4 linked regions of the Homo sapiens genome follow. The protein of the gene in region 1 purifies or fractionates together with the protein of each later gene. This does not show direct contact. Each region holds a gene or a part of one and is shown on either strand. Other genes may lie near its edges.

The links. Proteins that work in one complex are often made in the same cells at the same time.
Region 2: the proteins of ETS1 (region 1) and CHI3L2 purify together in Homo sapiens (affinity purification with mass spectrometry; one large-scale study listed by BioGRID and IntAct). This does not show direct contact.
Region 3: the proteins of ETS1 (region 1) and MEIS1 purify together in Homo sapiens (affinity purification with western blotting; one study listed by BioGRID and IntAct). This does not show direct contact.
Region 4: the proteins of ETS1 (region 1) and FOXO1 fractionate together in Homo sapiens (co-fractionation; one study listed by IntAct). This does not show direct contact.

What each region holds. Positions count from the first base shown.
Region 1 is NC_000011.10:128,580,132-128,585,217, forward strand, and holds part of ETS1 (protein C-ets-1), read right to left. Parts: intron 4,798-5,086; exon of another isoform or gene 2,866-4,797; intron 1-2,865. UniProt on the Homo sapiens protein: Transcription factor. Directly controls the expression of cytokine and chemokine genes in a wide variety of different cellular contexts. May control the differentiation, survival and proliferation of lymphoid cells.
Region 2 is NC_000001.11:111,240,827-111,243,940, forward strand, and holds the end of CHI3L2 (chitinase-3-like protein 2 isoform a precursor), read left to right. Parts: intron 1-500; coding exon 501-617; intron 618-1,400; coding exon 1,401-1,538; 3' UTR 1,539-1,540; intron 1,541-2,390; 3' UTR 2,391-2,614; downstream 2,615-3,114. UniProt on the Homo sapiens protein: Lectin that binds chitooligosaccharides and other glycans with high affinity, but not heparin. Has no chitinase activity.
Region 3 is NC_000002.12:66,567,625-66,571,124, forward strand, and holds part of MEIS1 (homeobox protein Meis1), read left to right. Parts: intron 1-1,042; coding exon 1,043-1,132; intron 1,133-1,425; coding exon 1,426-1,484; 3' UTR 1,485-1,521; intron 1,522-3,500. UniProt on the Homo sapiens protein: Acts as a transcriptional regulator of PAX6. Acts as a transcriptional activator of PF4 in complex with PBX1 or PBX2. Required for hematopoiesis, megakaryocyte lineage development and vascular patterning.
Region 4 is NC_000013.11:40,562,142-40,565,641, forward strand, and holds part of FOXO1 (forkhead box protein O1), read right to left. Parts: exon of another isoform or gene 548-3,500; intron 1-547. UniProt on the Homo sapiens protein: Transcription factor that is the main target of insulin signaling and regulates metabolic homeostasis in response to oxidative stress.

The DNA.
Region 1 (5,086 bases):
TGCGTCCTGAGCTTATCCAAGAGAGTAAGTTATCGTTTGGACATTAAAAAAAAAAAAAAAAAAAAAAAAAATCCCTGTGATGAAGTGTGTCCTTGTGTGACCCTGAGGTTAGGCTTCTCAAGAGTTAACTACAAGCAAGATGGCACTTTTCTCTAAACTATAGGATGTACCAGATTGATGAGTTCATCTATACTCCTTCAGTGTGTTCTTTCTGATTCTCATGAGTAGCCCACGTGTATTTCCCAAATCATTTGAGTAGATGTCTTCCCTGACCTGTCACTGTAACAAAAGCTCCCAAATCCAATTCTCTAAGAACTCAGGTTTAAGATCCATCATATCTAGGAAAGCTGAACATTCCTTACTCCCCATGGAAACTTTGTGGTTACAACGCATAGAAAAGAAAAAGGATTAGAAGAACTGAAGATGGTTTTTCTGTCTCACTACTAAATCTACAAGAACCTCATTTGCTTGACTAAGTAATCCAACATTACAGTAGTAGTGAATATTCCTTCTTATTTTAAGTAGCCAGCACTGACAAATGAAGGCTGTGTTCCAAATTATGGGCTACTGTCTTCTGTGTCTTAAGCTAAGTGCATTTATTCTTTCACTAAGGTTACAGAGCAGCAACTCACAGTACAATTAACATCTCAGTCTTTGTTTCTTCACAACTTCACTATAATTATTCCGCCAACCCTTGCTTAAATGGAAATGAGTCATATCCATCTCCTATTTCTCTAAAAATAAACCCATCTCCTAATTAAGCATAACACTTTCAAGTCCTGTATGAATTGACATAGCTCAACGAATCCTTCTTAGAATATTAAAATGAACTCATGTCATTATAATTTTAAAGAGTATATTGTTTTACCCTTCCTTGAGGAGTAACTCGCTACTATCTCCTGAAAAAGAGAAAGACTAGAAGATGTTTTACTCTGGTATACCATAGCAGTTAAGAAATAAGGAATGCTTCATAGATTATTTTATGCATTTCCTTCTCAGTGGAAACAAATCCCTCACCATACAGTACTGAAATGGCATTGTCAACAATGGACAGAAAGGTCTTGCTTCTCCTAGGCATCAAGGAAATACATTAAAACCTGCCGACTCTTAGGTCTAGGAATCTAACTAAGAAAATGCCAATTCTAGTCTCTGAAACCTTTGAAATACTAACAATCTACACTTTCTAGTCAATCATACTTCTGTCAGAACATCTTCCTGAAGATCAAAGGTAATATTCAATACACTGCCTTACCATAAAAGTGGCCATAGCCTGTGTACAAATGCTATGCCTCAAATCCTGTATTTTACCATGAAATTCAACAAATGATCACACTTGGCCTTAGGATGTACTCCTGAGCCAGAAGCATGGTAAGTACTCATAAATAACTGAATAAATAAATAAGGATTGTGTTTTACTTCGAACCTCAAAACAAAAAAAGAATAAGCTGGAGGAATAATGTAGAGTACTCTTTGCTTTCCAAGAATGGTCGTAATAGAGGCCATGGAATAAGAGATTGTTTTCCAAGTCAAATGCAAAGAAGGGCCACGAGATTAAAAACGTCAACTCTAATCCAATGAATGCTGCCAATGAAACCTCTGAAGAGACTAGCATTTTAAAGAATTACATTACAGACTCTTAGCCTGTGAAGCATGTCAGACATAATCTAGAGTTTAGACTTGGCTCTGGCTCTAAAGGAATTCTCAACAAAACTGAGAGGCACCATAAATAGAAAGAGATATTACAAGAACAATGAGAGGGGACTGGATAGTTGCAATAATGCCCCTTTAAAATTGAACTAAAAGATACCAGCTGCCTTAGATCTCTCAAATCCAGCAAGCAACTTCTTGGACTATGTCTGATTGTGATTTTCATGGTGGAGTTTCATTTGTTTTATTACCCGAAATGTAAGGTTCCAATTTCTCAGTATAATGCTAAACAGCTTGCTAGCATTCTTATATAAAGAGGGATTGTGCAATTCCAGTGAATTTTGGAGTTGGAAAAAATTCATCAATCTTCTCATTTATTTCAATGAACTGAGTCCTAAGAGGTTACGTGTTTAGCAGTGATCAAGAACCCTGGAGTTACATACTATGGGTGAACGTAGAACTGCTTGCTGCGTGTATGGCCATGAGCAAATTTCTTAACCTCACAATCAGTTTCCTCAACTATAAAATGCAGGTAATAATATCAACACTTTCAGGATTATAGAGGAGGATCATACAAAACACAAATACTTAGCAGCATGCTGTATAAATAGTAAAAATGGTCAATAAATAATAATTGTTATTATTGCTATTTTATCAGTAGTGCCTGGCAATTAGTAAGCATTAGTAAATGCTTACTAATGTCACTAATTAGTAACACTACTGTTTTATATTAATTACTTTTTTCTACTGCCCAACATGGCAGAGGTTATTTAAGTGTTAGAGCTAGAACATGGATAGCTAAATCTCTCATCTCTTTTTCTAAAGACTTGTATTCAAGTCATGAAAACAGGATTCCCTTTCATAATCATAGGTTGAGTAGCATTAGTCAAGAATTTTGCAGGAGAAAAGAGCCACAATTTCTGTTTAATGGTAGTCTGTTTGTACCATTGTTATGCATAAAACCAAGAAGTAAGCATTTTTCTTACAGTGGAGAACTAACTCATTGAAAGATTGCATAGCACAAATGGTGAAATATTGCAGCTTCCTGAGTTAAACCAACATCTTTTTGATATAATGTCGATCTTTTGTGGACTTACGCTTTAGCAACTAGATACAAATATAAGGAAGTAGTAAAGCACTGCGGAAAATAGTGCAAGATTTCTTGTTTGTTCATTTTTTTCATTTTTGCTTTTTCATTTGTTTTTGCTTTTTCTTTAGAGCAGTGCCTCCCAAACTGTAATGTGCATATGAATCACCCGGGGATCCTGTTACAATGCAGTCTGCTGCAGTAGGTCTGAGGTCTGGCCAGACATTCCACATTTCTAACAAGCTCCCACGTGGTGCTGATGCCGCAGGTCAGAGGACTTCACTGTGAGTAGCAAGGCAGCGCTGGACTAACTTGGTTGAACTCATGAGTGATTATAACAAGGTAGGTGTTTAGGAGGCAGAGCCCAAGGAGGAACAGGCAAGACTTCTGTGCCAAGGCTGAGCAGATGCTGGTAACCTCAGGTGCAATACAAACCCGGCTGGGGAGAATTGAGTAGCTCAGGACCTGTCAGTGTCTCAGGAGCCATATGCCAGATGCACATCTGCCAAGACTTCTTGCTTTTCCTAAGAAGACATGGTTCTAGTTATTTGGTCCCTTTTATCAAGAAACTGGCAATGGTGCTTTCTCCCATCAACAGAAGTCATTTGGATTAAGGATTACAAGAGGTGCCAAGAGATAATTTAAAAGAGTTATTTGCATTATATGTTTTTTTTTACAATTGTAAAAGACTCACATGTTTTGGAAACTTTTTGTACATTGTTTTGCAAACTTTTATGCATCTGGAATTATTTCAAAGTGAAAAGTTTTTTTTAAGTCTCTAAAAAGACTAAATCTCTTTTAAATCTCTAAAAAGACCAAAATTCTGGAGTTTTCTACCTTTCCACATCTCTTGAAAATTTATATATTTTTTCCTCCCCATTGAGAATATTTTCCTGACATTTGCACTAAATGTTTGTTGCTTACTCTCATGCTAGTAAGTACTACCCAGCCTGTTCCCTCTAAGTTCTGAAGGCAGCTCCAACACTTGATTACTGGAATATGAAATCTATCCTCTTTTGAAAAAAAGGCAGATCAGAAACATCCTTCCCTCACTGCTCTAGATACCATTTTTTTCTACCTGAACTCCCAAAGCATGTATAGGTTATACTACACTACTTAATAATTATATTGTCTTTCATTTTTATCCTCTTTTCTAGTAAAGATTATTGTGTTAATTTTAAAAATGGAGTTTACATATTGTTTCTTCTGTGTTTGGTATGGTCTCCAGCACAAGGCTGGGCATGGAGTAGAAATAAAACTGATATTTGTCAGGGAAGGGACTGACTTACTTACCCAGGAAACTAGGCCTGGGTAGTCTTTCTTCAAAGTCAGTATCTTCATAACAATGAATAAGTAATCCACAGATACCACTTCAGAAAACAGGCTTAATCCAGTGTTCTCCTAGATAAGCAAATCAGTCTAAGCAGAAAAATCTATCCTAAATTTGTGTAAATGTCTTAGAGTTACTTAGATTCCTATGACATGCAGTTCCAATCACAAGCTCTGGGTTCACATTCCATTGGCTCTAATCAGGGTCCACCATGAGTTAACACGGTCATATGACTGAGCCTCAGAGTCCCCACCTGGTAAATGGGGATGACGAGAGTGGAGTGCCCACCTCAAAACTTCATTGTAGATTAAATGAAGCAGTCCCTGCAAAGCACCTAGCAAGGATGTTGGAACATACCAAGTGCTCAGTAAACGTTAGGGCTGAGTATTCCTCCTTAGGTGAAATGAAGAAGAATGGATATGATAACTAGAAAATCATCTACATTAAAAGGTGGAGTTCAATAAGCTATACTTTCAGTACAGCAGGGATAAAGGAGATGAGGAAGCAAAAAGTAAGTTATGTCTTCACATCTAATTTTTCCCAGGATTGAAGAAACTTAAAAGATTTGCCTGAAATGCCACTAAATTGCTGCATACCACATTAATTTTGCTCAAATGCTAAATACTTTATCATTTCCATAATGAAGAAAGAAAGGGAGGAAAGGGAAGGAGGAGGGAAGAGGGAGAGAGAGAAGAAGAAGAAAGGAGGGGAGAGAAAAGAAAGAAAGAGGAAGAAAAAAGAGAAAAGAAAGAAAGAAAGAAAGAAAGAAAGAAAGAAAGAAAGAAAGAAAGAAAGGAAGGAAGGAAGGAAAGAAAGGAAAGAAAGAAGAAAGAAAGAAAAGAAAGAAAGAAAGAAAGAAAGAAAGAAAGAAAGAAAGAAAGAGAAAGAAAGAAAGGAAAGAAAGAAAGGAAGGAAGGAAGGAAAGAAAGAAGAAAGAAAGAAAAGAAAGAAAGAAAGAAAGAAAGAAAGAAAGAGAAAGAAAGAAAGAAAGAAGGAAGGAAAGAAAGAAAGAAAGAAAGAAA
Region 2 (3,114 bases), on another chromosome or scaffold:
GGAGGAGTAATAAGATTTAAGTGGAGATGCTACAAGATGAGGAATAGTGGTGATGGTCATGATAATACTTCACTTTAGAAGTAGAGCACTTTACTGTTTTCAAAAAAATTTTTTAATGTGTATTAGTTCATTTGATCCTAACAACAACACTGTAAGGTAGATATGTTGAAAGCATTATTATAATTATTTCCATTTTGCAAATGAAGAAATTGGAAGATTTATTGGTCGGTGCTGGGGTCTGATCTGGAACTCAAGTATTTTCTGATTTCTAGCTGCTGTGTCTCCTCCTGATGAGACTTTAGCACAGACACTTCCTAGAGGTTCACCTTGGAACACCCACTTCATATGATATATGTGGTCATTTCTCTCATTGTCTGATCCTTGGGATAAAGGTTCTGATATTTTCCCCAAGTCCCTAGTGGCTCACCTGCCCTGTCTACCCCAACCAAGTTTCAAGAATAACCCATTACTGACCCTCTCGTTTCCCTTTCCCCTGCCAGATCTGCCAGTTCCTGAAAGGAGCCAAGATCACGCGGCTCCAGGATCAGCAGGTTCCCTACGCAGTCAAGGGGAACCAGTGGGTGGGCTATGATGATGTGAAGAGTATGGAGACCAAGGTAGGTGGGCCACAGGCAGATACTCCTTTAGGTGGGGAATGGTGATATGTAGTAAAATGCCTGAATACTCTATGTTCAAAGAGAGAAGCTTCTGAGGCCCCAGACTCTAGGATGGGATCCAGCAGCCTTTATAGCTCAAGTCTAGTAGTGACTCTATGTCACACCCGCGAGCAGCTGTGGTACAGGTAGAAGAGTTGGAAAGGACGCAAAAAAGAATTGAGAACAAGTAAGTTTATTCTGATAAGTGAGGAGTGGAGAGAAGAGTAAGGCAAGGAGAAGGGAGAGGGAATAAAGGAGACGTTGGTGCCTGTATAGATAATCTACTTTGTTAATTATCTCGGGACAAACTGTTCAGTCCTTCTCATGGATTACCTAGCTAGGAGGCTCCAGATTCCTGAGCCTACCAGTTCTTAGACCTTGGTAAGACATTTGTGTTCCTTTCATGGTTAGAACAAAAAGGAGGCTTGAGTGTAATTGACAATCCTGGCCACTTGTCTTGTTAAGGGCTTCCTAGTTTCTTCCCTTATTATGGAGAGTTTTCTCAGCCTCCAAGAATGCCGGACCTTGAGTGTGGTGACTCAAGTCAGAATGAGATGTAGCTAATGCTGATTTGGTGGCTCTCTCTCCCTGAGCAATCTTACCCCTCAGGAAGTCTCTAACTCCAGAAAACCAGTTAGTCTACTGCTGTATTTTAAGCTTAGTCCCTCATCTGAACCTGATATGGTCCTGGGCATTTAGGGGCCACCCTTCGAATCTCTGTGTATCCTTCTGTGTCTCCCATAGGTTCAGTTCTTAAAGAATTTAAACCTGGGAGGAGCCATGATCTGGTCTATTGACATGGATGACTTCACTGGCAAATCCTGCAACCAGGGCCCTTACCCTCTTGTCCAAGCAGTCAAGAGAAGCCTTGGCTCCCTGTGAAGGTAACAGTCCAGGCTGGAGCTGGGAGTGGGCAGACAGCTGGGCAGAACAGGGCACAGGAGACTGGGGGAGATCATCTTCACATATTTGGACTAATCCTTTCTCATGCTCCTTTGGCTCTTCTGCCATGTTTTCTTAGCAATTAGGCTGGTTCTGCCCTTTTCATAGGCTTCCCATAGACTTTTAAAGTAATAATAATAATATTGATAAATTTTGGCTACCATTTATTGAGCATAGTATGAGCTAAAGACTTTCATTACATATATATTAGGGATAAATATTGACACCACCACAATTCTTGGTTACAAAATCATCAGCCTGTCTTAATTTTCTAAATCACAATAAATCTGACTCTATGTCCTCAATTCACTGGACTGATGATAATTTCCATCTCACTCATTACCTGAGGCTCTTTTCCCCCACCCACAGTTGATCTTACTTAGTCTAGACATTTGGGAGCTCCCATGGTCATTATTGCTACGCCTTTACCCAAGCCTCCCTATTACCTTGAAGGTCGGTGGCTTTGCTGCTGCTCCATCCCTGGGCCCCCAGTTCCCTAGGTGCGTTGTATATCCTCCTGTGCAGATGAAGGCTGTTGCTGACCAAACAGTTATGCTGTGATACATTGGTTCTAGGGCAGAGGGTGGAGAAGCAGGGCGCTGGGGCTCACTGCAGACAGACAACTAAAAGACTGGCTCTGCTATCCTGGCAAAGGGCCTAGAACCATTTGAAAACTCCTGATTAGATAATTGGGTAGCAGCCTTCCAACTCTGAGCATCCATTGTTTAGTAACTTGACTTAGGCCTCAGTTTACTGAGTTGGGCTTTGAAATATTTTTCCTTTTGTTTCCAGGATTAACTTACAGAGAAGCAGGCAAGATGACCTTGCTGCCTGGGGCCTGCTCTCTCCCAGGAATTCTCATGTGGGATTCCCCTTGCCAGGCTGGCCTTTGGATCTCTCTTCCAAGCCTTTCCTGACTTCCTCTTAGATCATAGATTGGACCTGGTTTTGTTTTCCTGCAGCTGTTGACTTGTTGCCCTGAAGTACAATAAAAAAAATTCATTTTGCTCCAGTAAGTATGGCCTCATTTATTCAGTCCTTGACCCTGTGATATCAGGTTGTTCTGTCCCTGCTATTTGTGGGATCCAGAGCTAGGGTGAAAACGAAGTTTTGCATATCATGTTTAAATATTAAAAACAGCTAACATGCTGTTAAAATATGACTTATGCTCCAACATTAACACATACAACTTTGCAACCACCTAGAAGGTCAGAACCTGAAAATTTAAAATTCTCAGACTCCTTAGAATACCACACCAGAATTCCCATCTTTGCCTCTGTCTCTCACAGTAGGAGCCTCATGGGCATACTTGTGGACATTGTAGGCTTTGTATCCAAGCTTCATCTGCACTCTACCCTCTACCCTCAACCTCCAACACACAAACCCACCCACACACACATACACCTGCCTCTGGGCTATGCATGTGCACACCGGCGTTGTGGTCCACTCTCAGTAAAGATGGGCCCAGGGAAAAGTCATGTGCAGGCTCTGAGAGAGCGCACAGGCTCTTCTGGCT
Region 3 (3,500 bases), on another chromosome or scaffold:
TGGCAATTAAAATTAAACCAGTTTCGTTTCATAACAACACTAATCAATTTAACATCATTATAAAACGTTTGGAGAAGGTGGAAAAAAAAAGCCAACAGAGAAAAGTAACTCTTAAATAATATGCTCAGTTACAATATTCTTTGTACACATTCAATATATTAATGTTATTTTTTTTCTGAGTTTGCCTTCCCAGCTCTTTCTGCTACTATGACCACTCCCTGGTGCATGGCTTGGTGTGGAATTGCTGTAAACTTTATTACCTGTCAAAAGGGCAAAGGGGTCAGGATTGCTTGTGGGACTCAGTAAAGTTCAAAGACATTCAATGAGGTAGAGCTTTTGTGTGCTTTAATAACCCAAGGCAGCTTACTTCTGAAGCAGCTTTTCATGTACAGTTAAAACACGGGATTCAGGTAGTGGTATAAATACATGGTTCTTATTTCTCAGACCTTCTCTTGTTAATATCCATCTTCTGGTGTTCGACTTTTTTTTTTTTTAATAACAGTCTTTTTGTTTTGTTTTTAAATTATGAGCTTAAAATGGCGATACTTCTATGGGATCCTGGCTTGTGGATCTAAAAATCCAAGAAACATCTCTCTAGGATTTGTTTTTGCATTATAATATGCCAGTAAGATAACAAGAGTATTTGCTAGGGGTGATGTGAGTCTTTACTTTCTTTATGAAATACTCTCTCATCTCTTAGGGAGCACTATGGAAAACTATGTTAGCATCGCATTGAGGCAACACACATTTACTCCTGTAACTTTTTTTCTTCCAACACCCATTATGTGGTCACCAGACAAAACCCAAGCAGAAAGTTTCCACACCTTAACTGTTCCCTCTTTGAGCTAGATGTTTTAAAAACTCAGTCACAGAGGTGTGTAGATCTAGTCTGAGAGAAATTTCACTTTGAATGTTTAAAAAATTATACTAGCCTGCTATGTTCTGTCTCTTTCTCTGGTATGTTCTCCTCTTAGTCTCTCTTGGGCTATTTCTTTTGCTCTCAGAGACTGTTATTAAAAAACCACATTCTGTACTTTTGTAGTAAGTCAAGGAACACCTTATAATCCTGATGGACAGCCCATGGGAGGTTTCGTAATGGACGGTCAGCAACATATGGGAATTAGAGCACCAGGTAAGACTTTGTTTTTGTGGTAGTTCCTCATTTTTGACTCCAAGAGTGTCATCCCCTCATCAACACAGGTAAATCCGCCTCATCCTTTTCTGTTATCTCAAGCTGGCTGCCTTGCCTTGTCTGCTATCTGTGCATCTAAGATATTGCAGAGGGGAAGCCAGGATCTTTATGCACTGAAGATCTCACTATTTCTCAACCCTCTAGATCCTGTTTTTTTTTTAAGGGTCTTTTGGCACTATCTGTTGACTTTGCTCATTTTCTGGCCTCTTCTTGGATTTTTATCTCCCTTCTAGGACCTATGAGTGGAATGGGCATGAATATGGGCATGGAGGGGCAGTGGCACTACATGTAACCTTCATCTAGTTAACCAATCGCAAAGCAAGGGGGAAGTAAGTACAAATGGGGTCTTTGTTTTCACTTTGTCCTAGGAATATTTTTCCTCTTGCATTTTCTTATGTTCTCCTTGCCCATAGCTTCATGCTTGTTCATTCCTTTCCATTAAACTCCTGGTTTCTTGCTTCCATCATTTTCTTTTTGGTTGTGATCAAGCTTTTAAGCTTATAAATACTGTGTATGATGTACATTTATCCTGTGTGTTGCTATTGTACAGTACTGACCACATGACAAAACAAGAAGCAGTCAGGAGGTGGGGGAGTGGGTTGTCATAGCAACAGACTGATTTGCAAAATGTAAGCAGTCTGCAGCAGTGCAAGGAGAGGGAAGAGCATGTCCCCAAAGTGTCATAAATCTGTCTAACCGCAGTTGATGCATGAGTTACATTTCTACACTAACCTGCAAGACACCGAAAAGCTAAACAGAGACTTCTTTTAGGTAAAATAAACACAAGCTTTACTTAGGGTAAGTAAAGGCATATTTTGAGCTCCAGTCAACTAAACTTTGATTTTTTTTCTTAGTTTATTCCTTTGTCTGTCCATCATAATGGGATTACGTGTGGCAATGGGAAAAGGGAGAATACAAAATAGAGGTGTGCACAGCAGGCTGCGGGGCTTAGCCCAGGCTAATTGACTATATCCAAATTAAGTATGCCATCACTTGCAGTGTGACAAATGGATTTGACTTATTCAGTATACAAAAATAGAGATCATTAATGCAATCATCAGTGGCAGGCCTAGTGAAGTGGGCCTAGGAAAACTGTCCCAGATTCTCACTCTTGCATTTTCTCTCCTATAAAGACACTCCAGCAATTCGAGTTCAAACAAGTAAAACTGTTTTGAACACCAAGGCTCTTGTTCACTTCCTAAATTACCCCTAATAGCACTGTTCTTGCTTTGTTTTTGAAATTAAAAGCAGTTATTTCAGAGTCTTGCTTGTGTCTCTGATTATATTTATGCACTATTTAAAATCACTGCTGAGGCCAGGGGTAATTCGTACTGGTCATCTTCTCTGGGTGTGAGTCAAATATAAGTTTAACAATTAGCTCTGAAAACATTCCATTGAGCTGGGGAATGCAACAGTCTTATTACCTCATCATGGAATTCTCTAGCTTAGTTAATTTAAATATTGTTTCTTAGTTTCTGGGTCAATTAAATTTAAATGATGTATTTTATGCTTCGTGACCAATTAAATTACTAGGTTATTACAAAAAAAATTATCATCTTTTTTGATTAAAGAGCTGTGGGTACAGTATATTTTATAAGCAATTTTCATTAGTTCAAAAATGTTCCTTTAGGCTAGATTAAGCAGCCATTCATTGTTAGAGCCTGGAGACCTTATTCGAAGGTGTTCATCGTATTCACAGTGCACTATTACTTAGAACTAAAGCCAATTGAACCTACTTAGCAATAGCGTTATGCCTTTCACCCTTGATGATTATGGAGCTTATAGCTCTCAGAAACAATACACCTGTCAGTTTCCATCAACTATAGCAATCCATGCAGAAGACAAGAGGCCCCCTCAAAGCAGGAGGGGTATTGTTTTAGGTCCAATTTTTCTTATTGTTCTCAAAATCATTATAAGGTGGACAGTGTTTTGTGAAGATTTTCTTTTCCCCAGCTCTAAGAAACCATGTGGAAAGAATTCATTGATAACTGTTTTGATTTTTTTCTTTTTTTAAGTACAGGTTTTGCTAAGTAATCACCCTTAGTGAGCCTGTGTAGTTCAGCTGCCTGTGAGATGTTTGGTGACCAGCTCAGTGTATTCTTGTATTCTTGATAGAGAATATTTCAGGAGACAAAAGTGCTTCTTCAGACCAGACCTCAAATAACAATTTTATTCTTTTTAATAAATAAGACCTCAGTAGGCGGACCTGATAACAGTGACAATGAAAGGAAAATAGTGGCAAAATGTGAGTTTCCAGCATGATGTTTCTCATTTTATTTTCTTCTGTATGAATCAAAAGAATGCTTTA
Region 4 (3,500 bases), on another chromosome or scaffold:
TGCCCCTACCCTCCAGTTCTACCAATGACCAGTAGTATGAGCAGGATGCACCAACTAACTCCATGACACACCTCCACGTAGCCAGGGGCTACACTGTCCAAACAGACAACCTGGGATGGGAAGAAATGACAGAGAACGCAAAGAGCTCTAACTCTCAAGCTACCGCAGCTTCATAACTAATCATGCCATGTTTATCATCCCTAGGCCAACTAGGGAAGAAAAACCAACAATCTTTCTTTTGAGTACTTCCTGGGTGGCTCTGCTACTTACTTACCTAGGTGACCTTGGGAAGCTGCCTAGCCCCTAATGTGTCTTAAGTTTCCTCACCTGTAAAGCAGGGCTAAATTACAGAGCCTTATCAGGGTTGTTACATGTACTAAATGAGATACATAAAAATGCTCAGCGGTGCCTGGCATGTAAGCAGTCACCATGAAGGGAATATTAGACCCCAACTTAGAATAGTGGTATCCTGCGCCCCAAAGTCCTGCTTCTCTATTCCTATTCAGTGTGGTATGTATAGGAGCTTAGAAGTAGTACAGATACAAACCCACAACTGCAAATATATGGTGAAAGGGGCCAGAGGTGGTCTCTCCAAGTTTCAGCAGAAACACCAGAGCCAGGCTGCAGATGAGAAAGCCATGGTTTGATTCACCTCCTCTACAACACAGAGTAAGATGGTGTTCAGGGGAGTCCGTGGGACACGTGGAAAAGGAGACGAGGGAAACGCTGTGAGCTCCCCAGAAGGAAGGGCCTTGTCTTATAGCTTCTGGCCCCCAGCACAGTACAGGGCACACAGCCACTACACCTTGTTCATTCAGCAGCCTCTTTCCTCAGAGGTCTGCTCCCAAGGAGTGGGATTCTGGGTGCCCTAAGACCCTGGAATGTGCACAGTCTCCCAGCTTTCTTGGCCTCCTCTGCCAACTGGATGCAAGGCTCAGCTGACCATGCCCCCTGCATCTCTGCGGCCCCTCTTCTCAACCACAAAAAGGCTCTGGCTGGATTTGTGGTCACCCAGGGGTGCAGCCACAGCGCCCACATCCTCATGCCATTGACATGGGACGCCCGGGCCCGAGTGCCAACCACTGCGCCTGAGCAGAGCCTCTGCACAGCAGGATGAGGCCTGGCTCCAACACAAACTGGGAGAGAAGTCTTCTCTCATTAAAAGGTGGTAGAAGAGAGAAAATGGAGGGGTCTCACTTTCTAAAGGGAGATGCAAAAGTCAGGGTAAGGCCCAGCAGTCAGGGCTGAGAAATCCACATTTCAAAACGCCCTCTGACTCTCTGTACTGCATTCCGCCTAAAGATTTCAACACAGCAGCTACGTGACAAGCCCTCCTGCCAGAGCATACAGTGAAGTGTGAGAGCGGGGAAGACACCACCGGAGCCCCAGATTCCCGGCTGGAACGGAGCAGGTGTGTGGTGATGGCAGTGACTGTCTCCTGTTCCCAAGAATCCCCACCTTCCTCCACACCCAAGATCTACCCTCACCTCGAGACACGCTGTGAGGAGGGCCAGGGGCTTAGAGTAGGTACAAGAATCCCTAAAAGAGGCCAGGGAGTACATTTCCCTCCCATCCTATTGCATTCCCCTAAGATCCCCAAATTCCTATGGGAAGGCGCCACACACACACATGTATGCTCACAGAGCCACAGCCTTGTCTGCTGTACCCACCAACCCCAGCCGAACCGAGTTCTTAATTCCTCCTTAAGATCAGCAGGCCCGCACTTGGGGTAGCACTGGAATGCAGCCCTGCAGTCTGACCCTGACATTTTCTATACACTGGAAGTCCAGGCATTTGCACAATATTCCATCATGACAGTTTTGTTCTTTGAACACAATAGACACACAGATAAGCTCCGATGAAATCTCTGGAGGAGAGGAAGCTTGACTCCTGTCCCTGTCACATTTAGTTAATGATAAAGGGGGAAGAAAGATCTTCCCAGATAGAAGCTTCCTGGTTGTTGCATTGACTTGGGGAGAGGGGGTGAAGCTCTCTAACATTCATGATAAGCCTGTCAGATCACTGGCAAGCCCAGCTGGGGGTCATTTTTAAAAAGACTGCAGGAGACATAATAAGGAAATCTTTAAAACATTCAAGAAGCGTTCACTAACTCAGGTGGGACATATACTAATTTAGACTTTAAAAAAAAAAAAGCCACAGCAGTCTCCTACTTATCAAAACATCATATTACATATTTTTCTAAGAGGACATTTCAGGTCGCTCTTTGAGTAACAGAGCTGTTTCCTAACTTTGCCAACAATTAAAATTTTTTCCGAACAGGAAAAGGTTTGCTGTGCAGGACTTGTTACATAAATTCCTGTTTTTCACACAGCCAGCGGGACATTAAAGAAGCTACGGTTTCTAGGGGGTGGGGTTTGAAAAGGTAAATTTTGTAAAAATGTGTTGCTATTAACGACGTTGTGTCTGCACTCCCCTACTGGCCACAGGAGAGGCTGGATGGAAGAGCAGTTCACCAGAAGGACTTCGCAGCAGAGCCGCGTGAGACTGCTGGGCTCTGAAATATTATGCCCTTGAACTCTCAACAAATATTACCTGAGGACAGAGGCAGGATGTCAGGACAGAGGTTCATGCCCTGTCAATCACTTGCCCAAATCCAGCGTTTCTACATGACGGCACTAGAGAAACACAAGCCAGCCAATCTCCTCTCCACTAGCTTGTTTCTCTGCAGCCCCACTCACAAGCCTCTGCACACACCCCATCTGCCATCTGCATGCCTGGCCACCCCAAGCAGTGCAGCATGTGCTTCCTGGGAAGCCTGACCCAATGAGCTCCACAGATGGGGGAGTCGGGGAACCCCGACATGGTGTAGTCGGGGAACCCCGACATGGTGTACTTGCTTGTTCAACCTGCTCTGCTGGCTGTTCTATGTTCAGATTCTGAGTTCCTTAAAGAGCAAATGGGCTAAAGCTTGTCTTTAATTTCTAATATCATAGCCTCAATAACTGTTTGTTGCTTGACCCCCAAAAAAATTACAAGGAAGATATGGTGTCTTACACAATACACATCTTTTAACCATCCATTTGAGTACCAATTCATGTCAACTAACATTTACTGGAAACTATTTTGTGGAAGGAGTAGCGAAAGACATGAAGGAATGAGACACAGAACATGCCCTCCAGAAGCTTTTGATCTACCTGGGGAGAAAATAAGTACACGTAAAGAGCCACTTAATAGGATGACACAACCCATAGACTGTCCAGGAACACGGACCTTTTCTCTCCAAAGGCTGCCACCCTGCCCTCCATGCCCCAGCTTCTGTCTCAGCCCAACTGGCCCCTCCAGAAGCATTTCTTGATGACCTCATCCCATCCTGCAGCTCTAACATGGGACCTTACTTACTCACCCCTCTTTATGATTCCACTATGTCTGATCCCTGGGGCGGTGGGGGGGCATGCCTGACTTCCCACTACACTGTGAGCTGCTCAAGTGAGCACAGGGACCTTTGTCTGTCTTCTTGTACACTGTATCCTCACAGCACC